Linked DNA regions of Homo sapiens. The protein of the gene in region 5 purifies or fractionates together with the protein of the main gene of each other region. This does not show direct contact. Each region holds a gene or a part of one and is shown on either strand. Other genes may lie near its edges. The genes, in order: OTUD5, UBR1, HGFAC, VTI1B, RABGEF1, BIRC2 and TAX1BP1.

Evidence for each region.
Region 1: the proteins of RABGEF1 (region 5) and OTUD5 purify together in Homo sapiens (affinity purification with mass spectrometry; 2 studies listed by BioGRID and IntAct, with this or other methods). This does not show direct contact.
Region 2: the proteins of RABGEF1 (region 5) and UBR1 purify together in Homo sapiens (affinity purification with mass spectrometry; 2 studies listed by BioGRID and IntAct, with this or other methods). This does not show direct contact.
Region 3: the proteins of RABGEF1 (region 5) and HGFAC purify together in Homo sapiens (affinity purification with mass spectrometry; 2 studies listed by BioGRID and IntAct, with this or other methods). This does not show direct contact.
Region 4: the proteins of RABGEF1 (region 5) and VTI1B purify together in Homo sapiens (affinity purification with mass spectrometry; 2 studies listed by BioGRID and IntAct, with this or other methods). This does not show direct contact.
Region 6: the proteins of RABGEF1 (region 5) and BIRC2 purify together in Homo sapiens (co-immunoprecipitation; 3 studies listed by BioGRID and IntAct, with this or other methods). This does not show direct contact.
Region 7: the proteins of RABGEF1 (region 5) and TAX1BP1 purify together in Homo sapiens (co-immunoprecipitation; 3 studies listed by BioGRID and IntAct, with this or other methods). This does not show direct contact.

Annotation. Positions count from the first base shown.
Region 1 is NC_000023.11:48,924,017-48,926,634, forward strand, and holds part of OTUD5 (OTU domain-containing protein 5), read right to left. Parts: intron 2,035-2,618; coding exon 1,831-2,034; intron 37-1,830; coding exon 1-36. UniProt on the Homo sapiens protein: Deubiquitinating enzyme that functions as a negative regulator of the innate immune system. Has peptidase activity towards 'Lys-48'- and 'Lys-63'-linked polyubiquitin chains. Can also cleave 'Lys-11'-linked ubiquitin chains (in vitro).
Region 2 is NC_000015.10:43,095,973-43,099,548, forward strand, and holds part of UBR1 (E3 ubiquitin-protein ligase UBR1), read right to left. Parts: intron 1-3,576. UniProt on the Homo sapiens protein: E3 ubiquitin-protein ligase which is a component of the N-end rule pathway. Recognizes and binds proteins bearing specific N-terminal residues that are destabilizing according to the N-end rule, leading to their ubiquitination and subsequent degradation.
Region 3 is NC_000004.12:3,447,446-3,450,031, reverse strand, and holds the end of HGFAC (hepatocyte growth factor activator serine protease isoform 2 preproprotein), read right to left. Parts: intron 2,541-2,586; coding exon 2,401-2,540; intron 2,138-2,400; coding exon 1,997-2,137; intron 1,905-1,996; coding exon 1,756-1,904; intron 796-1,755; coding exon 613-795; 3' UTR 546-612; downstream 1-545. UniProt on the Homo sapiens protein: Serine protease that hydrolyzes the inactive zymogen hepatocyte growth factor (HGFsc) to an activated disulfide-linked heterodimer, then initiating hepatocyte growth factor receptor signaling pathway.
Region 4 is NC_000014.9:67,657,574-67,661,149, forward strand, and holds part of VTI1B (vesicle transport through interaction with t-SNAREs homolog 1B), read right to left. Parts: intron 2,350-3,576; coding exon 2,158-2,349; intron 1-2,157. UniProt on the Homo sapiens protein: V-SNARE that mediates vesicle transport pathways through interactions with t-SNAREs on the target membrane. These interactions are proposed to mediate aspects of the specificity of vesicle trafficking and to promote fusion of the lipid bilayers.
Region 5 is NC_000007.14:66,806,661-66,809,352, reverse strand, and holds part of RABGEF1 (rab5 GDP/GTP exchange factor), read right to left. Parts: intron 1,516-2,692; coding exon of another isoform or gene 1,477-1,515; exon of another isoform or gene 468-1,476; coding exon 69-467; 3' UTR 1-68. UniProt on the Homo sapiens protein: Rab effector protein acting as linker between gamma-adaptin, RAB4A or RAB5A. Involved in endocytic membrane fusion and membrane trafficking of recycling endosomes. Stimulates nucleotide exchange on RAB5A. Can act as a ubiquitin ligase.
Region 6 is NC_000011.10:102,371,191-102,374,766, forward strand, and holds part of BIRC2 (baculoviral IAP repeat-containing protein 2), read left to right. Parts: intron 1-3,576. UniProt on the Homo sapiens protein: Multi-functional protein which regulates not only caspases and apoptosis, but also modulates inflammatory signaling and immunity, mitogenic kinase signaling, and cell proliferation, as well as cell invasion and metastasis.
Region 7 is NC_000007.14:27,795,599-27,799,174, reverse strand, and holds part of TAX1BP1 (tax1-binding protein 1), read right to left. Parts: intron 3,060-3,576; coding exon 2,956-3,059; intron 1-2,955.

The DNA.
Region 1 (2,618 bases), on a different chromosome or scaffold from region 5:
TGTGGCCGAACTGCATGTGGCGCTGGCTTTCCGGGGCTGCAGCGGGGAAGGTAAATGCGTTAAGGACCACCAGCAGCCATGACCTTCTTGTGACCCATCCCTGAATGCTGGCTCCCTTCCCAGGACCTTGGCTATGATACAGCTTCTATGTAGGTCAACATCATCCCCACTCACACGGTGGACCACAAGACTCCTCACAGGACAGAGGTGGAGCTCCTTACCCTTTCTCTCACACCCCTACAGCCAATCTGACAGGAAACCCTGTTACCTCTATCTTGAAAATAGATCTCAAATCCAACCCCTTCTCACCAACTCCACTGCCAGCACTGGCCACCAGTCACCTGGCCTACTGCAGTAGCCTCCTCCTCACTGGCCCCTGCTTCTGCCCTCACTCACCAGACTCCACTGGATGACTAGCAGGCAAGGCGATCTTATTAAATCCCCAACCACATCCTGTCCGTCCTCTGCTCACAATCCTCCCATGGTTTCTGCCTCTCTGAGAGTAAATGCCAAAGTCCTCGCCACAGCCCACAAGCCCCTACCCAATTGGACCCACAACCTCTCTGACTTCATCTACTACTACATTCTGTTCGGATACACCGGCCTCCCTCTGGGCTGTGCCTGAGTTGTACCAGGTGTGTGGGCCTGCTGTCCTCCCCTCCATGTGCGCTCAGCTAACTCTCACCTTCTGCAAGGCTCAAATCTCACCTGCTCTGAGGCCTACCCTGACTGCGCTATTTCATACCGTGAACGCACATTCCTGCTCAGCCCCTTTATCCTGGCTCTACACTTTCCATCCATAGCACTTCCCAACTAATTTATTCATTATATTTATTATTTTATTTCACTCTGCAAAACTGTGAACATCACAAGGACGGGGATCTTGGTCTGCTGGGCTCACCTATGTATCCCCATATACTGAAAACAGGGCCTGCCACAGACTGGTAGTAGGTATTTGTGGAATAAAACTCAGCTCCTTCAGCCGGGTGCGGTGGCTCACGCCTGTAATCCCAGCACTTTGGGAGGCCGAGGTGGTCGGATCACGAGGTCAGGAGATGGAGACCATCCTGGCTAACACGGTGAAACCCCGTCTCTACTAAAAATACAAAAAATTAGCCAGGCGTGGTGGTGGGCGCCTGTAGTCCTAGTTACTCCGCAGGCTGAGGCAGGAGAATGGCATCAACCTGGGAGGCGGAGCTTGCAGTGAGCCGAGACTGCGCCACTGCACTCCAGCCTGGGCGACAGAGCAAGACTCTGTCTCCAAAAAAAAAAAAAAAAAAAAACTCAGCTCCTGCCAGCCAACATCTACAATCACTCCAAACTCCTTGCGATTTTACAATTCCTCAGATGCTTGTCTGCCCCGCCCCTCCCCGCTCCCCTAACAATTCAACCTTCCTCTGTGAAGACTAACCGGAGCCCCCACCTCCACTGATCTCCCAGTCAGGGTCAAGGACCCCACCATTGAGTTGTCTCTGCCAACAGACGAGATCGTTGAGGGCAGAGTAGTCCAGATCTGATGTTACATTCTCAGTAGAGACCTGGCACACAAGGGCAGTCAACAAAAGCTTGTGTCTCTGAAGCTATCCATTATTCTCGTGTCACCAGCAGCATGGCTGCCCTCCTCTCACTCCTTAAGTGCCTGTTCTGCACAAGTATTTAAAGTTCCAAGGTACAATGCCAAAACTAAGACCAAGATGAGTTACAGATGGTGCTGGATGCTTCCTTCCCTCCCAGATGTCAAAACTGCTTAATTTTTTTCTGCTCGCTTGAGGGCAAAGCATGAGAAGTAATGAGTTTTTGGCCAAGCCTGTGACAGAGTCCATGACCCACCTGGCTGGGGCCTCGGACCTGGCGAGCCTGTTTCTCCTGATCCCGCAACCACTGCAGGTAGGATTCCCGAGCCACCTGCTCCTCGATGGCTTCATTTGTGGCCTCCCAGTCTGTGGCCCGTTTCTTGTCTTCTAGCATCTGCTGTTCAATCCATGACTCCTCCGATGTTTTTATGGCATTCTTCATCAGAGACTGCTCTGCAAACTGCAAGGAGGGAGAGGAACAGGGATGTGCAATAACACACTGAACCTGCCCAAGAGCCAGAACAGGCTCAGCGAGGTAGGCCCACAGGCCCCAGAAAAAAAAGGAGACAGGAAAGCAGGTACTCCCAAAGAGCAACACTCCACAGACTACCTCTTGATTGGGGACCAAGGGAAAGCAGGCTTGGGATGTGGGACCTGTCATTCCAAACTCCTATGCTTGTAAGACCTGACTCTAACCCCCAAACCACCTCAACTGAGGCACTGAGACTGGAGCAGTCAGGTGCCTTCCAACCTGGGACTTATTTTTTTTTTTTTTTCTGAGACGAAGTATCGCTCTGTCGCCCAGGCTGGAGTGCAGTGGGGTAATCTCGGCTCACTGCAACCTCCGCCTCCCAGGTTCAAGGGATTCTCCAGCCTCAGCCTCCCAAGTAGCTGGGATTACAGGTGAGTGCCACCACCCCCGGCTAACTTTTTTGTATTTTTAGTAGAAATGGGGTTTCACCATGTTGGCCAGGCTGGCCTTGAACTCCTGACCTCAGGTGATCCACCCGACTCGGCCTCCCAAAGTGCTGGGATTATAGGTGT
Region 2 (3,576 bases), on a different chromosome or scaffold from region 5:
TACACTATACTAAGAGTGCAATAGTATGAAGTCTTTAAAAATGTACTTAATGTTAAAATACTGCTAAAAAATGCTAATGATCATCTGAGTCTTTAGAAAGTTGTCATCTTTTTGCTGATAGGGGGATCTTCCCTCAATATTAATGGCTGACTGATTAGGTTGGTGATTGCTAAACGTGGGGGTGGCTATGGCAATTTCTCTCTTTTTTTTTTTTTTTCTGAGACAGAGTCTCACTCTATCCCTCAGACTGGAGTGCAGTGGCACGATCTGGGCTCACTGCAATCTCCGCCTGCCGGATTGAAGCAATTCTCCTGCCTCAGTCTCCCGAGTAGCTGGGATTACAGGCGCCTGGCTCATTTTTGTATTTTTGGTAGAGATGGGGTTTCACCATGTTGGTCAGGCTGGTCTCAAACTCCTGACCTTAGGCAATCCGCCCACCTCGGCCTCCCAAAGTGCTGGGATTACAGCCGTGAGCCAACGCGCCCGGCCAGGCAATTTCTTAAAATAAGACAACCATGAAGTCTGCCACATTGATTGACCTTTTCACAAAAGATTTCTCTGTAGCATGTGATAGCATGTTACCAATGGCAGAACTTCTTTCAAAACTGGAGTCAATCCTTGCCAACTCTGCGGCTGCTTTATCAACTATGTTTATGGAATATTCTAAATCATTTGTTCTTATTTAAACAATGTTCACAGCATCTTCACCAAAAGTAGATTCCATCTCAAGAAACCACTTTCTCTGCTCATCCAGAAGAAACAATTCCTCATCCATTAAGTTTTATCATGTGTTTACAGCAATTCAGTCATAACTTCAACCTCCACTTCTAATTCTAGTTCTCTTATTTCTACCACATCTGCAGTTACTTCCTCTACTAAAGTCTTGAACCCCTCAAAGTCATCCAGGAGGGTTGGAATCAACTTCTTCCAAACTCCTGTTCATGTTGATATTTTGACCTCCTCCCACAAACTATGAATGTTCCTAATGGCATCTAGAATGCTGAATCCTTTCCAAAAGTTTTTCAATTGACTTTGCCCACATCTATCAGAGGAATCGTAATTTATGAAAGCTATAGTTTTATGAAATGTGTTTCTTAAATAGTAAGAGTTGAGAGTTGCAATTACTCCTTGATCCATGGGCTACAGAATGGATATTGTGTTAGCAGGCATGAAAATAACATTTATCTCCTTGTATATCTCCATCAGAGCTTTTGGGTGACCAAATGTATTGTCAATAAGCAGTATATTTTGAAAAGAATCTTTTTTTTTTCTCAGCAGTTCTCTACAGTGGACTTAAAATATTCAGTAAATCATGTTATAACAGATGTACTGTCATCCAGGCTTTCTAGTTCCATTTATTCAACATACGCAGAGTAGCATAATTCTTAAGTATTCTTGGATTTTCTGAATGGTAAATGGAAATTGGCTTCAACTTAAAATTACCAGCTGCATTAGCCGCTAGCAAGAGAGTCAGCCTGTCCTTTGAAGCCAGGCATTGACTTCTCTCTAGCTATGAAAGCTCTAGATGGCATCTTCTTCCAACAGAAGGCTGTTTCGTTTACATGGAAAATCTGTTTAGTGTAGCCACCTTCATCAATTATCTTAGCTAGATCTTCTGCATAACTTGCTGCATCTTCTCCATCAATCAGCACTTACTGCTTCACGCTGCACTTTTATGTTGTGGAGATGGTTTCTTTTCTTAAACATCACGAACCAACCTCTGCCAGCTTCCAACTTTTCTTCTGCAGCTTCCTCACTTCTCTCAGCCTTCGGAGAACTGAAGAGAGTGAGGGCCTTGCTCTTTGATTAGGTTTTGCCTTAAGGGAATATTGTGGCTGGTTCAATCTTCTATCCAGAGCACTAAAACTTTTTCCACATCATCAGTAAGGCTGTTTCACTTTCTTATTATTTGTCTGTTCACTAGAGTAGCACTTTTAATTTCCTTCAAGAACTTTTCCTCTGCATTCACAACTTGGCTAACTGCTTGGCACAAGAGGCATAACTCTTGGCCTATGTCAGCTTTCAACAGCCTTCCTCACTAAGCTTCATCATTTCTAGCTTTTGATTTAAAGTGAGAAATGTTGAACTTTCCTTTTCACTAGAATACTTAGAGGCCATTGTAGGGTTAACTGGCTTAATTTTAGTATTGTCCCATCTTAGGGTATAGGGATGCCCAAGGAGACGGAGAGAGATGGATAAGTAGCTGGTCAGTGGGGCAGTCAGAACAAACACAGCTTTTTTTATTATGTTTGCTGTCTTTTATGGATGTGGTTCATGGCACCCCAAAACAATTACAATAGTAACATCAAAGGTCACTGATCACAGATCATCATAACAGATATAATAATGAAAAAGTTTGAAGTATTGTGAGAATTACCAAAATGTGACACAATGACACGAAGTGAGCACACAATGTTGAAAAAATGGCACTGAAAGGCTTCCTTGAGACAGGGTTGCCATAGACTTTCAATTTGTAAAGAACTGATTATCTACAAAGCACAATAATAAAGCTCAATAAAATAAGGTATGCCTGTATTTCACTGGTTCATCTGTATCACTGATTTATAAAAGTATCTATCCAGACACACTCTTTGTGCAGTACTGAGGACAAAAACCTTTTCATTTGCAGGATGTTTGGTATTATAAGAAGTCAGTTTCCAGCACTAGCACATCTACACTAAGTTACTGTTCCTTCCCTAGACTCTTAGTTAGTGGGGCTGAATCAGTCATTTTGACTTAGAGTTTTAGAACTCAATTTCACATCTAATTCTATAGAATCTGGCATTAAAAAATCAAAATTTCCCTAACTCCCCAAAATAGAAATTATGAGATGGTGAAAAAACAAAAGCCATTAGGTCTTGCTAAGATCTGGTGACAAAGTACTTCAGTTAGACTCAAAAGACCTACATTTTCATCAGTTTTCCCACTCAGAGTGTGTCCTTACTACACAAAACTGTGCTCTGGCCTAAAACAATATAGATTCAAATTTCTAAGGAAAATCATCTCCAATTAAAATCACATATAACTCCTCACTTCTATATTGAAGTCAAGAGATTATGTTGTATTTTAAAGATCCCCTATAGCCCAGGCACGGTGGCTCACATCTGTAATCCCAGCACTTTGGGAGGCTGAGGCGGGTGGATCACCTGAGGTCAGGAGTTTGAGACCAGCCCGGCCAACACGGCAAAATCCCGTCTCTACTAAAAATACAAAAATTAGGTGGGCATGGTGGTGTGCACCTGTAATCCCAGCTACTCGGGAGGCTGAGGCAAGAGAATTGCTTGAACCCAGGAGGCAGAGGTTTCAGAGAGCCAAGATTGCACCACTGCACTCCAGCCTGGGTGACGTCTCCAAAAAAACAAAAAAAAAAAGTTCCCCTACAGATATGAGATTATGGGTACATTTTTCTTTGATTTCCATAATGATTATTGCGTAACCATAACAATATTAAACTTTTAAAAAATCCTCCCATTTCAGCAGGAGACAACTTTGGGAAATAACAGAAATATTCTATAACCTGATTTGGTGGTAGTCACACAAGTATATACATTTGTTAAAATTTATCCAAGAAACGCC
Region 3 (2,586 bases), on a different chromosome or scaffold from region 5:
CTCTGCCTGCCCAGCAGTGACCCTCTAACTGGGCCCCATCTAGCACATGGGCCCCTCCCTCCCTCAGCCCCCACAGAGGCAGCCTGTGGCCTCCTCCCTCCCGGGAAGTGCAGCCCAGGCTCAGGCAGGCGGGCTGCCATCTGGAAGACCAACGACGGCCTGCGGGTGTTCCCGTGGGGCCGCTCTTTCTTCTTCAGGTTCAATACTCCGTGCACCACGCGGATCGGACCCCTCCACGCCTGGGGGCCTGGACTTGGTTTCCACTTCCTGCCCTGGGACAACCCAGGTGCTGAGCCCCGGCCTGGGGCTGGCCTGGGAGGGGGCTGGACTCTGCTGGGGCCTGGAGAGGCCCAGACCTCATCCCCTGACAACTCTCTGGGCCGTGGGGCCAGACCCCGCTGTGGGGCCACAGGCTCCGTCTCCACTGAGGACTGTGTGCGCTCCAGAACGGCAGCCTGAGGCCTGCTGCGCATAGACCTGGGCCCCAGTCATGGCCTGGAGGGGAAGGCGGGGCCGCAGGCAGGGGCCAGGCAGCGTGGGCCGGGTTCTTGGAAATATCTTTATTGTCAGCAAGGCAGGGAATGGTGGGAACCAGGGTGTCCCGCTGGAGGGTCAGGAGGGAGCCACAAGCCGCCTGGGAGGCCGTATCCGGTCGTTGATCCAGTCCACATAGTTGGCCACGCGGGTGTAGACCCCCGGCTTGTGGAGCCGCCCGCAGCCGTCACCCCAGCTGATGATGCCGTAGAGGTAAGCCACGCCGTTCTTCTCGCAGGCCAGGGGCCCCCCTGAGTCCCCCTGGGCAGAGACGTTGGTCAGAGCCACCCTCCCAGGGGCCTGGTTCAGGGACCCCCCTCTCCCCCAAGTGGCAGCTTGGGGACAGAGGACAAAGGCATTTCTGAGCAAGGGAGCTGATCCACTCTCCTGAACCTCATGAAAAGGTGTCTCATTCCCTGGGGGCAGCACTGGCTGGGCCAGGGCATCCAACCACGTTATTCCCCTTCCTGAAGCCACGGTCCCCCTCTCCCCACCAGCATGAACCCTGTGTGGACCACACAGCCACCCTGTGTCCCAGCACCTCCTGAAATGACTTCTTCACTCCCTGGAAAACTCCTACGCATCACTCAGGACCAGTGCAAACACTCCCTCCTCCAGGAAACCATCCTGACTTCCCTTATCGAGGTCCAGTGACAAGCCCTACCCACTCTACCACTCCTGGGCTTTGTGGCCTTGGAAGAGTGAATTGACTGCCTGGGGCTCAGTCTCCCCAGCTATAAAATGGGGCATAAGAGAGCCGTCGCATGCCAGGGTTGCCGTGCCGCCTGAGCACACAGGCCTGCAGAGCCCAGGACGTGGTTGGGCTGTTGGGCTTATTGAAGGTTGAAGAACTTATTGAAGGTTGAAGAGCTGGCTTGAGAGAACTCGGGGCAAAGGGGCCTTTGGTGCCTAGTGTCACACGGAAAGCACTGCCTTGGGCTGGACAGCCAGGAACTGTCCGGGCTCTGTGGGACCCCAGGCCCCTCTCAGAGCCTGGGTCTCCCCTTCTGTGTGAGGAGGATGCCCTTCCGGCAGGGCTCTGGGTGGCCCTGGGGTGCTGGCCACCGACAGTAAGTGTGCTCCCTGCCCAGGGGTCCCTGGCTGGCCCTGCCAGGTTGGGGTGCCGCCAGGCTCTGGGCTCCCCAGGGGCAAGCATCTCGGAGACTCAGGACCAGCTGAGCCCCCACCAGTCGGGTCCTGGTGGGGCGGGCACCAGCTCACCTGGCAGGCGTCGGACTTGCAGTCGAAGTAGCCGGCACAGAGCATGTTGGGGCTGATGTCGGCGCCGTAGACCTCAGGGCTGCTGCACTTGTGGTCGGCGACCAGGGGGACCAGGGCCTCCCGCAGGGAGCTGGAGTAGCCGCTCACGTCTGTGGGACACAATGCCCTCAGCGTGACACCCACACTGTGGCTGGCCACTGTCCACCCTGGCGGGGCGCTGGGCGCCCCCCTCCCAACTCACTCTCATCCAAGTGGCCCCAGCCCGCAATCTGGCACTTGTGTCCTGCGGGGAAGGTGCTGCCGGGCTCGGGCAGGCAGATGGGCTGCACGAACTGCGAGCGTGTGGCACAGCGGTCCCCTTTCTTCTTCAGCCGGATCAGGACTGATCAGAAGAGTGGCCAGGGTCAGCCTGTGGTGTGCGGGCTGAACGGGAGGCTGTCGGGGCCCGTGGTGGAGGGAGGGTAGCCAGTGGGGTCCACAGGGCAGCCTGGGAGATCCAGAAGGGAGCGGTGCCCTGTCCTCCCTGCCCTGCCCCCAGCTTCCCCCGCACCACATGTCTGCCCAGCTCCTGCCCCTGTCTGGGCCTGGCCTGGGGAGCACAGGGCCCACCTGCCCAGAGTGCAGCCACGACACGCCGGAGCTCACCGAGGTCGTGGTCGCTGGGGTTGAACACCGAGTACAGGGTGTACGGGATGTACTTCTCGATGCCGAAGGTCTGCGTCACGTCCGTCGTGCGGTTGAAGAAGTGCTGGCCCAGCACCACGGAGACGCTGTCCCTGGGGGGGCTGTGCAAGGGGGGCTGGAGGCTGCATGGACCAGCCCTCCCCCAGC
Region 4 (3,576 bases), on a different chromosome or scaffold from region 5:
GCTGTTCAAAGCACGCGCGCGCGTGCACACACACACACACACACACACACCCAAAATCAAAAGGGACCCAGCTCACAGAGGCCTAGTACAGAGCAAGTGACCACTGGCAGTAGGACCATCAAGGAGCCAAAAGATTGGCTCCCAGAACAGAAGTAGCAAGGAGCATTTTCTTTCTTTCTTTTTTTTTTTTTTTTTGAGACAGTCTCGCTCTGTCGCCCGGGCTGGAGTGGAGTGGCAAGATCTCAGCTCACTGCAGCCTCTGCCTCCCGGGCACAAGCAATTCTGCTGCCTCAGCCTCCCAAGTAACTGGGATTACAGGCACCCGCCACCACGCCCAGCTAATTTTTGTATTTTTAGTAGAGACAGGGTTTCACCATGTTGGCCAGGCTGGTCTCGAACTCCTGACCTCAGGTGATCCACCAGCCTCAGCCTCCCAAGGTGCTGGGATTACAGGCGTAAGCCACTGTGCCCGGCGCTCTGTAGCATTTTCACTTAATAAATGGCATACAGACCAGTAGACGAGGAAACCACTGAATGAGGTTCAAATAAAACCAGTTAGGTTAGCGCAAAGGAAGAAGGAAAAAGGTTTTCAAAATAAAAGATGCAGATTTTCAACTGAGTAGGCTAAAAAATGACTAAGAAAAGATCAGATCACATAAATGAACTTCAGACAGATTTGGAACAATACTTTTTCTGAAGGTATGGATACCTAAATTATGTTTTAATAATTTCTGAAACTCGCCAGGCGTGGTGGGTCATGCCTGTAATCCCAGCACTTTGGGAGGCCGAGACGGGTGGATCACAAGGTCAGGAGATGGAGATCATCCTGGCTAACACGGTGAAACCCCGTCTCTACTAAAAGTACAAAAAAAAATTAGCCGGGCGTGGTGGTGGGCGCCTGTAGTCCCAGCTACTTGGGAGGCTGAGGCAGGAGAATGGAGTGAACCCGGGAGGTGGAGCTTGCAGTGAGCCGAGATTGCGCCACTGCACTCCAGCCTGGGTGACAGAGCGAGACTCCGTCTCAAAAAAAATAATAATAATTTCTGAAACTCATAATTTTAAAGCAAAATTGTTTGGACTTCCTCCCCAACTTTGGCAACATGACTAAAGTCACTTTTACAACTCCCACTTTAACCAGCTCCACCTGCCTGCCTGTTTCCAGTCTCCCTTTACAAGTGATCTTCTGTCAGCTTCTAATCTGTGATAATCCCTCGCGCATCCATTTGAAAATTTTAAGTACTTCATTCTCAAGGGATCTAGTTTTGGCATCAGCAATGTCAAGCCAATATCATCCTGAATATCTCTTAAACTATAATCAGGATGCATCGTGAAACAGGATTTGTTTAAAATTGTAGTATGAGCCTTTCAGTCTGCACTGGTGGGCCCCTTTCCATTTCTCTGCCATGCTACTTGCCAGAGAATTTCTACTTTGTGTTGTGTTTGTGGAAGACAGACCAAATGCAGCACATTTAATCTTTCAGACGTTTTATTCCTTTAACGATCTAGCTGCTCTAGATGGTTTCAGAATACAGATGTTCAATTAGTCCAATTTTATAAATCAGAATCCTGAAAGCTAGAGAGGGAGTCTTGCTCACTTTCTATTACCACAGAATAAAATGATAAAAAGCTCCTTCTCGAGAAGCGCCCTGCATTGGCTACTGTATCTCAGTTGCTGGGCCATCTTGACATTAAGGTAAAGGAAAGCTTGGATTGATTTTGTAACAATATTCTGATAAATTAGAAACCTAACTGAATTTTCCAGGCATACCTGAGAAAGTGATTCTAAAATTTATATGAGAGAATAAAAAAGATCAAGGAGAAAAGAAATTAGATCAATGAGTCAGAATCCAGATAATAAGAATAGGTAACATTTACATTCTACTACATACAAAGCACTGTTTTTTTTTTATTATAAGACTGTATTATATTAAGGATAAAAAGAAATCTAAATATGCATATAGTTCGAAAGGCCTGCCTTAAATAGAGCAGATACCAAGGGGTAACAGGAACTGGATGCAGAAAAGAGGATAAGGGTGAAAAAAATGAAACAAGAGTCTAGTATACACTGATAACATGAAATACCCCAACAATATAGTTAATTTTTGTACCACAGGCCCTTAAAGGAAAAAAAAAACAAACAAAACAGCTAAAACTTACCATATGCTCATTCTCTACAGCATATATGCCATATTTCATGTCTCCTCGGCCTCCAGGTGTGGCTGTCAAAGGTGTGCTTCTCACCTCCCGATGGAGTTTAGCAAGGTCCTTCCGGTAGTTTCGAAGCTTAGACATCATGGGGTTTCGGAAAGACAGGGGTGCATAACGTAGCTCCTCCTCCATCTCTGCCAGCTGGGAAGGCAGAAAGTAGTGAGCAGATAGCCTGGTTCTTCCCTCACTCATTTGGAAATATGCCTAGTTTGGACTAATCAAACTACTTATTTATTTGGACTACACCAAGTAAATAACCATATGCTCCATGAGGCAGGGACCATGTCTGGCATGTTCCCCTCATTCTGAATGCCTTGCATAGTGCCCAGCAAGCACAGAGCAGGCATTCGAGTATATGAACTGAATGAATGAATGGAAAAACAGAAGTACTTTATAGCTTACTAAACACTTTTATATACATTCTCCATTTAATCCTCACAACAAATCAATAAGGTAGGAAATGCTCCATTTCATATATAAGACTTAAAGAAACCTCTGAAGATCGCACAAAAAGGAGTCCGGGCCAGGCACAGTGGCTCAAACCTGTAATCCTGGCACTTTGGGAAGCCGAGGCAGGAGGATCACTTGAGCACAGCCTGGGCAACATAGCAAGACCTCATCTCTATATATATATAAAAAATTAAACAGAAAAGGAGTCAGGATTCAAAATCTTCAAATTCTCTCAGCTCTCTTCAATATACCAAGTTTTTAGCCTGGTATGATTGAACATTGCCATCAAGAAGTGCTTTGAAGTCTACTGTATTAAAAATGATAGGGGTCTGGCATCAGGGTTCTTCCCTTCTCCTGCTCCTCTTTCTGAAAATCAATTAAGTTTGTCTCCATGTCAGAGAGAACAGGGGCCTACCCAGAGCAGTCTGCTTTAGGGGAATCAGACTTCCATTTTTCTGGGGTAAGTAAAATGTAACACCTGGACACATCCACAAGAGGCCCTAAATTATTTTCATCTGCCTGGAATGGGCAGCATAGGATTATTACTTTTGCTGAGTTTGGAGAAAACAAGTATCTGAGCATCAAACAAATCAGTAGCAGCTAGAAGATTTTAAAAATGCTACCAAGGTATTAACTGAAACAGGAGAATGGCTACAAACAGGTATCATGGATATGCCCAGCTGTACACAGGTATTAAGAAAAGCTCCCAGTACTCCCATTAGGAAGAAGATAGTTCCCACAGTCTAGTGGCCTGGTCTTTCTTAAAACAGATGCAAAACAGAGAAAAGGATGCAGATGTGCTTCCTTCTCAGAACTTCATTGGGATAAGTGGGAAATTGAAACACTGATCTTCAACAAGCAAGAAGGAAGTTCGCTGGCCAAAAGAGAATTTTTTCTCCATCTGCTCTCGGGTAGCAA
Region 5 (2,692 bases):
AATCAGTTGAGTGTAGTAAGGGCTACCTACAATTTAGGCTCAAATAAATACTCTCCACTAAATTGTGATCATCCTGCATAAACTTGAGGTTGCAGTGGTGGAGGAAGTTTATCATTTTCAACGTTTTCAGAGTCAATAGCTGCTAACGGTTGATTCGGAGGCTTAATTTCCAGTGGGTATTTCTCAACGATGTCTTGAACTTCTCTTGCAATTCCATCTGTCCAATCTATGAGGTCTTTTTCCAGTTTCTTGGCTTCATTCATGATCCTTTCTTGTCGTTCATTCAACTGAGACAAGAGATCCAAGTTCTTATACATTTGCTTGACGCCTAAGCAAGCATCAGGAGACCAACTCTCAGCTTCTTGCTTCCTGGGAGAGGTCTGGCCAGACATGTAGCGATCAAAATCCTCCTGACTTAGATTCAAAGACTGGGCGTCTAGCTTCTCAATGAAAGCCACAGCACAGCACTACAAGAAGAGGACGTTAATACAGTCATATTAGGAAAGCTATGCATACTCGAGTCGATTTGTAAAAATCTTTTGATCACAGACCATTTAAAACAGAAGCTAAAGTAAACAAAACAAACTCATGAACTTCTGTGTATTTCAGCCTCAAAAATTACCTACTCCTATCCCCGGTCGTGCTTCCTATACACTCCCAGGAGCTCCAGGGCCGATGTCTGGGTGCAGCCTCCCCAGGTGCACCATGAAGCCATTCTGTCTGAGTCTTCCCAGACCTGCTATCCCCACCCAGGATATAGTCCCCAAGTAGGTGTGGCACACAGACCTCTGATCCTCAAATGAATATTTTAACATCAAGTGGTTAAAAGAACAGCTCCAGACCGGGCCCGGTGCCTCAAGCCTGTAATCCCAGCACTTTGGGAGGCTGGGACGTGTGGATCATGAGGTCAGGAGTTTGAGACCAGCCTGGCCAACATGGTGAAACCCCATCTCTACTAAAAATACAAAAATTAGCTGGGCGCAGTTGTGGGCGCCTGTAATCCCCGCTACCTGGGAGACTGAGGCAGGAGAATTGCTTGAACCTGGGAGGCGGAGGTTGCAGTGAGCCAAGATCACGCCACTGCACTCCAGCCTGGGTGACAGAGCAAGACTGTCTCAGGAAAAAAAAAAAAAAGGAACAACTCTGAAGTGACTGAACCTGAGTTCACTGTCACCTCTTTCACTTAACAACAACAGTGAGTGACCGTGGGAAAGTTACTTAAGCTCTCTGAGGTTTCTGTACCTGTAAATGGGGGGAAATACCACCTAGATTTATTGTGAGAATTAAACAACATAACATGTCACGTGCTTCCGAGAGGCCTGCAGCGAGCAATGAATACACGGTAGCAATTATTAGTACAGACATGGCACTGCAAATGCCCAATTCAACAGACATCTGAGCCAGGCGTGTTGGCTCGTGCTTGTAATCCTAGCACTTTGGGAGGCCGAGGTGGGAGGATTGCTTGAGACCAGGAGTTCAGACCAGCCTGGGAAACAGTCGGGGTAGAAACCATCTCTAGAAAAAAGGAATAAAGAAAAAGAAAAATCTGATTCATCTGAGTAGAACGGAACACCATCTGGCTCATGGTGTGTGTGGAGTTGCTGTGGCCCCTCTGTGACCTGGAAAGAGGAGGTGATTCTAACTCCTCACTTAGGTGAATGGAGACATGGCATTGCCACTAAAAGGAATAGAGAATACTGGAAAAGAAACAAACATCTGAAGGGGAAGTAGCTCTGAACAAATTATATTTGAGGTGCAATACAAGTGTAAGGTCAAGACAGGTGACCCAGAGCTGCAGGCCATCACTGCACAGTGAGTGACAGCTCTGTGACAGAGAAGATGGTGCAGGAAGAGAGATGCAGAGACAATGGAGTCCCATGGAATGACACAATTCAAGGTGGAAGTAGAAGACACAGACTTTACAAAGAGACAAGGAAGTAGTGGAATTGTGGAAGCCAAGGAACAACAGAAGTTGCAGAACAAAGGACTCTTGGAGAGTGCTATGAGAAGCGAAGGAAGATGAAGACTGTGAGTGCCCGTGGGGTTCGTCAGCTGGAAACTTTTTACTTTTGCCAGAGCAGTTTCATTGGAGCAATGGGTGTAGGAGACAGACTCTGAGTCAGGCAAGAAGAGGACAAAGAGAGAAGGCACAAATGTACTTAAGGCTGCAGGCCAAGGGCACTAGAAGCTGCTAAGTGTGTGCAAGCCAGCCACCTCTACTGTCAGTGACCGTGGCTACGCTCAAACACGTCCTGGTCCTCCTCCACTTCTCTCAATACCTGCCATGTCTCCACCTTCACACTTCTCAGGGACTTCCAGGTTGTCTGACTCGCTTTGGATAAAGAACTGAATCCAAAACGCTCTTCCCTCGTAGGCAAGTGTATGTTTCATTTATATTAAGAAATATGAGGCCAGGTGCGGTGGCTCATGCCTGTAATCCCAACACTGTGGGAAACTGAGGTGGGTGGATTGCTTGAGGTCAGGAGTTCGAGACCAGCCTGGCCAACAAGGTGAAACCCCGTCTTTACTAAAAATACAAACATTAGCCGGGCATGGTGACACACATCTGTAATCCCAGCTACTTGGGAGGCTAAGGCATGAGAATCACTTGAACCCAGGAGACGGAGGTTGCAGTGAGCTGAGATCACACCACTGCATTCCAGCCTGGATGACAGAGGGAGACTCCATCTCA
Region 6 (3,576 bases), on a different chromosome or scaffold from region 5:
TTCCAACACTATGTTGAATAGGAGTGGTGAGAGAGGGCATCCCTGTCTTGTGCCCGTTTTCAAAGGGAATGCTTCCAGTTTTTGCCCATTCAGTATGATATTGGCTGTGGGTTTGTCATAGATAGCTCTTATTATTTTGAAATAGGTCCCATCAATACCTAATTTATTGAGAGTTTTTAGCATGAAGGGTTGTTGAATTTTGTCAAAGGCTTTTTCTGCATCTATTGAGATAATCATGTGGTTTTTGTCTTTGGCTCTGTTTATATGCTGGATTACATTTATTGATTTGCGTATATTGAACCAGCCTTGCATCCCAGGGATGAAGCCCACTTGATCATGGTGGATAAGCTTTTTGATATGCTGCTGGATTCGTTTTGCCAGTATTTTATTGAGGATTTTTGCATCAATGTTCATCAAGGATATTGGTCTAAAATTCTCTTTTTTTGTTGTGTCTCTGCCCGGCTTTGGTATCAGAATGATGCTGGCCTCATAAAATGAGTTAGGGAGGATTCCCTCTTTTTCTATTGATTGGAATAGTTTCAGAAGGAATGGTACCAGTTCCTCCTTGTACCTCTGGTAGAATTCCGCTGTGAATCCATCTGGTCCTGGACTCTTTTTGGTTGGTAAGCTATTGATTATTGCCACAATTTCAGATCCTGTTATTGGTCTATTCAGAGATTCAGCTTCTTCCTGGTTTAGTCTTGGGAGAGTGTATGTGTTGAGGAATTTATCCATTTCTTCTAGATTTTCTAGTTTATTTGTGTAGAGGTGTTTGTAGTATTCTCTGATGGTAGTTTGTATTTCTGTGGGATCAGTGGTGATATCCCCTTTATCATTTTTTATTGCGTCTATTTGATTCTTCTCTCTTTTCTTCTTTATTAGTCTTGCTAGCGGTCTATCTATTTTGTTGATCTTTTCAAAAAACCAGCTCCCGGATTCATTGATTTTTTGAAGGGTTTTTTTGTGTCTCTATTTCCTTCAGTTCTGCTCTGATCTTAGTTATTTCCTGCCTTCTGCTAGCTTTTGAATGTGTTTGCTCTTGCTTCTCTAGTTCTTTTAATTGTGATATTAGGGTGTCAATTTTAGATCTTTCCTGCTTTCTCTTGAGGGCATTTAATGCTATAAATTTCCCTCTACACACTGCTTTGAATGTGTCCCAGAGATTCTGGTATGTTGTGTGTTTGTTCTCATTGGTTTCAAAGAACATCTTTATTTCTGCCTTCATTTCGTTATGTACCCAGTAGTCATTCAGGAGCAGGTTGTTCAGTGTCCATGTAGTTGAGTGATTTTGAGTGTTTCTTAATCCTGAGTTCTAGTTTGATTGCACTGTGGTCTGAGAGATAGTTTGTTATAATTTCTGTTCTTTTACATTTGCTGAGGAGAGCTTTACTTCCAACTATGTGGTCAATTTTGGAATAGGTGTGGTGTGGTGCTGAAAAAAATGTATATTCTGTTGATTTGGGGTGGAGAGTTCTGTAGATGTCTATTAGGTCCACTTGGTGCAGAGCTGAGTTCAATTCCTGGGTATCCTTGTTGACTTTCTGTCTCGTTGATCTGTCTAATGTTGACAGTGGGGTGTTAAAGTCTCCCATTATTAATGTGTGGGAGTCTAAGTCTCTTTGTAGGTCACTCAGGACTTGCTTTATGAATCTGGGTGCTCCTGTATTGGGTGCATATATATTTAGGATAGTTAGCTCTTCTTGTTGAATTGATCCCTTTACCATTATGTAATGGCCTTCTTTGTCTCTTTTGATCTTTGTTGGTTTAAAGTCCGTTTTATCAGAGACTAGGATTGCAACCCCTGCCTCTTTTTGTTTTCCATTTGCTTGGTAGATCTTCCTCCATCCTTTTATTTTGAGCCTATGTGTGTCTCTGCACGTGAGATGGGTTTCCTGAATACAGCACACTGATGGGTCTTGACTCTTTATCCAATTTGCCAGTCTGTGTCTTTTAATTGGAGCATTTAGTCCATTTACATTTAAAGTTAATATTGTCATGTGTGAATTTGATCCTGTCATTATGATGTTAGCTGGTGATTTTGCTCGTTAGTTGATGCAGTTTCTTCCTAGTCTCAATGGTCTTTACATTTTGGCATGATTTTGCAGCTGCTGGTACCGGTTGTTCCTTTCCATGTTTAGTGCTTCCTTCCGGAGCTCTTTTAGGGCAGGCCTGGTGGTGACAAAATCTCTCACCATTTGCTTGTCTGTGAAGTATTTTATTTCTCCTTCACTTATGAAGCTTAGTTTGGCTGGATATGAAATTCTGGGTTGAAAATTCTTTTCTTTAAGAATGTTGAATATTGGCCCCCACTCTCTTCTGGCTTGTAGGGTTTCTGCCGAGAGATCCGTTGTTAGTCTGATGGGCTTCCCTTTGAGGGTAACCCGACCTTTCTCTCTGGCTGCCCTTAACATTTTTTCCTTCATTTCAACTTTGGTGAATCTGACAATTATGTGTCTTGGAGTTGCTCTTCTCGAGGAGTATCTTTGTGGCGTTCTCTATATTTCCTGAATCTGAACGTTGGCCTGCCTTGCTAGATTGGGGAAGTTCTCCTGGATAATATCCTGCAGAGTGTTTTCCAACTTGGTTCCAATCTCCCCATCACTTTCAGGTACACCAATCAGACGTAGATTTGGTCTTTTCACATAATCCCATATTTCTTGGAGGCTTTGCTCATTTCTTTTTATTCTTTTTTCTCTAAACTTCCCTTCTCGCTTCATTTCATTCATTTCATCTTCCATTGCTGATACCCTTTCTTCCAGTTGATCGCATCGGCTCCTGAGGCTTCTGCATTCTTCACGTAGTTCTCGAGCCTTGGTTTTCAGCTCCATCAGCTCCTTTAAGCACTTCTCTGTATTGGTTATTCTAGTTATACATTCTTCTAAATTTTTTTCAAAGTTTTCAACTTCTTTGCCTTTGGTTTGAATGTCCTCCTGTAGCTCAGAGTAATTTGATCGTCTGAAGCCTTCTTCTCTCAGCTCATCAAAGTCATTCTCCATCCAGCTTTGTTCCGTTGCTGGTGAGGAACTGCGTTCCTTTGGAAGAGGAGAGGCGCTCTGCGTTTTAGAGTTTCCAGCTTTTCTGTTCTGTTTTTCCCCCATCTTTGTGGTTTTATCTATTTTTGGTCTTTGATGATGGTGATGTACAGATGGGTTTTCGGTGTGGATGTCCTTTCTGTTTGTTAGTTTTCCTTCTAACAGACAGGACCCTCAGCTGCAGGTCTGTTGGAATACCCTGCCGTGTGAGGTGTCAGTGTGCCCCTGCTGGGGGGTGCCTCCCAGTTAGGCTGCTCGGGGGTCAGGGGTCAGGGACCCACTTGAGGAGGCAGTCTGCCGGTTCTCAGATCTCCAGCTGCGTGCTGGGAGAACCACTGCTCTCTTCAAAGCTGTCAGACAGGGACACTTAAGTCTGCAGAGGTTACTGCTGTCTTTTTGTTTGTCTGTGCCCTGCCCCCAGAGGTGGAGCCTACAGAGGCAGGCAGGCCTCCTTGAGCTGTGGTGGGCTCCACCCAGTTCGAGTTCCTGGCTGCTTTGTTTACCTAATCAAGCCTGGGCAATGGCGGGCGCCCCTCCCCCAGCC
Region 7 (3,576 bases), about 39 Mb from region 5:
AATTAACTCAAAATGATTCACAGACCTAAATAGAAAAGCTGATTATAAAACTTCTAGAAGACAACACAGGAGAAAATCTTTATCTCCTTGGATTAGGCAAACATTCCTTAGAAGGTAAAAAGCATAAAACATAAATGAACTGATAAACTGTACTTTATCAAAATTTAAATTTTGCTTTTCTAAAAACATCATTAAGGAAATGAAAAGGCAAGCTACAGACTTGGAGAAAATATTCACCTTACATATATCAGACAAAAGACATATACAGAAAAAAAAAAAACACAACTCAAGATGAACAACCCTATATTTAAACTACCAAAAAGATTCGACCACTCACACAAAGAGATAAAGAGCAAATAAGCATAAGAAAAGATGCTCAACATCAAGTCATTATACAAATGCACATTAAAACCACAATGAGCTATCAGTACACACCCATTAGGCTGGCTATGTAAGATGGTACAAACACCTTACAAAACAGTTTGGTAATTTCTTTTTTTTTTTTTTTTTTGAGACAGAGTCTCACTCTGTCACCCAGGCTGGAGTGCAGTGGTGCAGTCTTGGCTCACTGCGACCTCCACCTCCCGGGTTCAAGCGATTCTCCTGCCCCAGCCTCCCATGTAGCTGGGATTACAGGAGTGTACCACCATGCCCAGCTAATTTTTGTATTTTTAGTAGAGAAAGGGTTTCACCATATTAGCCAGGCTGGTCACAAACTCCTGACCTCAAGTGATGCTCCCACCTCGGCCTCCCAAAGTGCTGGGATTACAGACATGAGCCACTGCACCCAGGAGGTAATTTCTTACAGAGTTATTCAACTACAATATCACCCAGGCAATTCACCCCTAGATATTTACCCAAAAGAAACAAAAAAAAACATATGTCCATAAACAACTTCTAAACAAATGTTCATAAGCAGCTTTATTTGTACCAGCCGAAAAACAACCCCAACTACCCATCAAGTGGTGAATGGATAAACAAATGATAAAATAAAAAAGGAATAAATATATGCAATAATATGAATAAATCTCAAATAATCATGCTGAAAGTGGGTAGAAAAAAGTACATATTACATGACTCCATTTTATAAAATTGTCTAAAAGGTAGGCTAATTGATAGTGACAGAAAGCAGGCCAATAATTTCCTAGAGATAAGGATAACGAAAGGGATGTGTTGCAAACAGGTACCAAAAAAACTGGGAGAGTGATGGCACTGTGGTGATAGTTTCACAACTGTGTATGTCAAAACTGATCCAACTGTATACTCTAGGTACGTGCAATTCATTGGATTTCAATTATACCTCAATATGGTTGTTTAAAAAAAAAAAAAAGCACCCTGAGGAAGGTTTTTGCTTGAACATTATTCTATCTTCCTTTCAATACTATTTCTATAGAAAAATCTTGAAATATTCATCCAGAATTGTTTCATCTTTAACGAAAATGTAGTTCACTCTTACAAAAAACTACCCTGAATTCAAGAGTAAAACTGTTCTAATCAACCCTTCCACAGGATTCTCTCAAGCAAAAAAAAAAATTCATTTTAACTTTGGTTAAAAGATTTTGCTATTTATAAGCAACAAAATATTTTAAATAATTACTGTAAATTAAATTACAGTAACATGAAGCTAATGTGTAAATTTTATTCTATAGCTCTAAAAAATGCCCCTCCCCTCCCCAATGCACACAAAAACACACAAAGCACATTTAAAAAAACAAACAAAAATCACTTGCACAAACAACACTTTTTCCTCTCTATGCCAAATTGATATAAATGAGAAGCATTTTCCCTTTTCCTTTAAATATTCCAGTACTGAATACTACACCAAGAAGGCTGCAAACCAGAAAAGTCTGAATGAAGCTGTTTAAAATAATCAAAATAGGCCGGGCGCGGTGGCTCATGCCTGTAATCCCAGCACTTTGACAGGCCGAGGCGAGTGGATCACGAGGTCAGGAGATAGAGACCATCCTAGCTAACATCGTGAAACCCCGCCTCTACTAAAAATACAAAAAATTAGCTGGGTGTGGTGGCAGGCGCCTGTAGTCTCAGCTACTTGGGAGGCTGAGGCAGGAGAATGGCATGAACCCAGGAGGCGGAGATTGCAGTGAGCTGAGATCACGCCACTGCAATCCAGCCTGAGCGAGAGAGTGAGACTCCGTATCAAAAAAAAAAATAAAATAAAATAATAATAATCAAAATAAACACCGTAAGAGACAATTCATTTGGTTAACATTCCCTTTTCCACTATGCAAGTCTAGTCACTTTAAGATGTAAAAATCTTTGCTATTATAATAGTAATTTATTTTATTTATTATTTTTTTTTAGAGACTCGCTCTGTTGCCTAGGCTGGAGTACAGTGTGCAAACTCGGCTCACTGCAACCTCCGCCTCCCGGGTTCAAGTGATTCTCCTGCCTCAGGAGACTGTAGCTGGGACTACAGGCATGCTCCACCACAGCCTGGCTAATTTTTGTATTTTTAGTACAGACAGGGTTTCACCATGTTGGCCAGACTGGTCTCGAACTCCTGGCCTCAAGCGATCCACCCACGTCGACCTCCCAAGGTGCTGGGATTACAGGCGTGAGCCACCGCACCTGGCCGATAATAGTAAATTTAAAAACAGCACTTCCCTTTTATGAAGTTCAAATATTTTTCATGCATCTTTATACGATGACAGATAATTTCTAACCTCAATTAACTATTTGCCCATTACCCAAACAAGAACATTTTATTAGGTGAAAAGAAAATAGTAACTTTAGGTCTCATGATGCTACACACACGCCTATGTGAACAGGTACACAAAACGCCCACCTCATCATCCCAAAAGCCAAAGTGAAACTAAGTAACACTATATGGAGATGGAAAAGAAACTCAAAGATACCAATCAATTGAAACAATAAAGGTAAGCTAAGTCATTAACATTTTATAAATCTCTTTCACTTACAAGGTAGTTAACTTACCTGCAAGAGTTGTTTACATTTATTATACTTTTCTGTTTTGTCAGCAATTTCTTTGGTCATTTCACAGACTTGCCCCTTTGTTACTATGTCAAAATCTGCCTCTGCTGTAGAAAGGCAGAATATAAGACTGTTAAAAAGTATTTTGCCCCTTATATTATCTTCCTGTTCAGAATAACTTAAAGGTCAGTATACTGTAAAATATAGTAAATGGAATGCTGAAGGACAGAAATATCTATTCATATCCTAGATATACAAAGAAGGATATATAAACTCTAGTTGAGAATTGTTAAATGTGTGTTTGGCCAGAACCAAGTTCGCATTCAATAATAAAGGATTATTCTTTGATTTTTTAAAAATTTGCTAAAAAGCGGCCGGGCACGGTGGCTCATGCCTGTAATCCCAGCACTTTGGGAGGCCAAGGCGGGTCGAGGCCGAGGCAGGAGATCGAGACCATCCTGGCTAACACGGTGAAATCCTGTCTCTACTAAAAATACAAAAAATTAGCCAGGCGTGGTGACACACACCTGTAGTCCCAGCTACTCAGGAGGCTGAGGCAGGAGAATTGCTTGAACCCAGAAGGCAGAGGCTGCAGGGAGCTGAGATCACGCCACTGCACTCCAG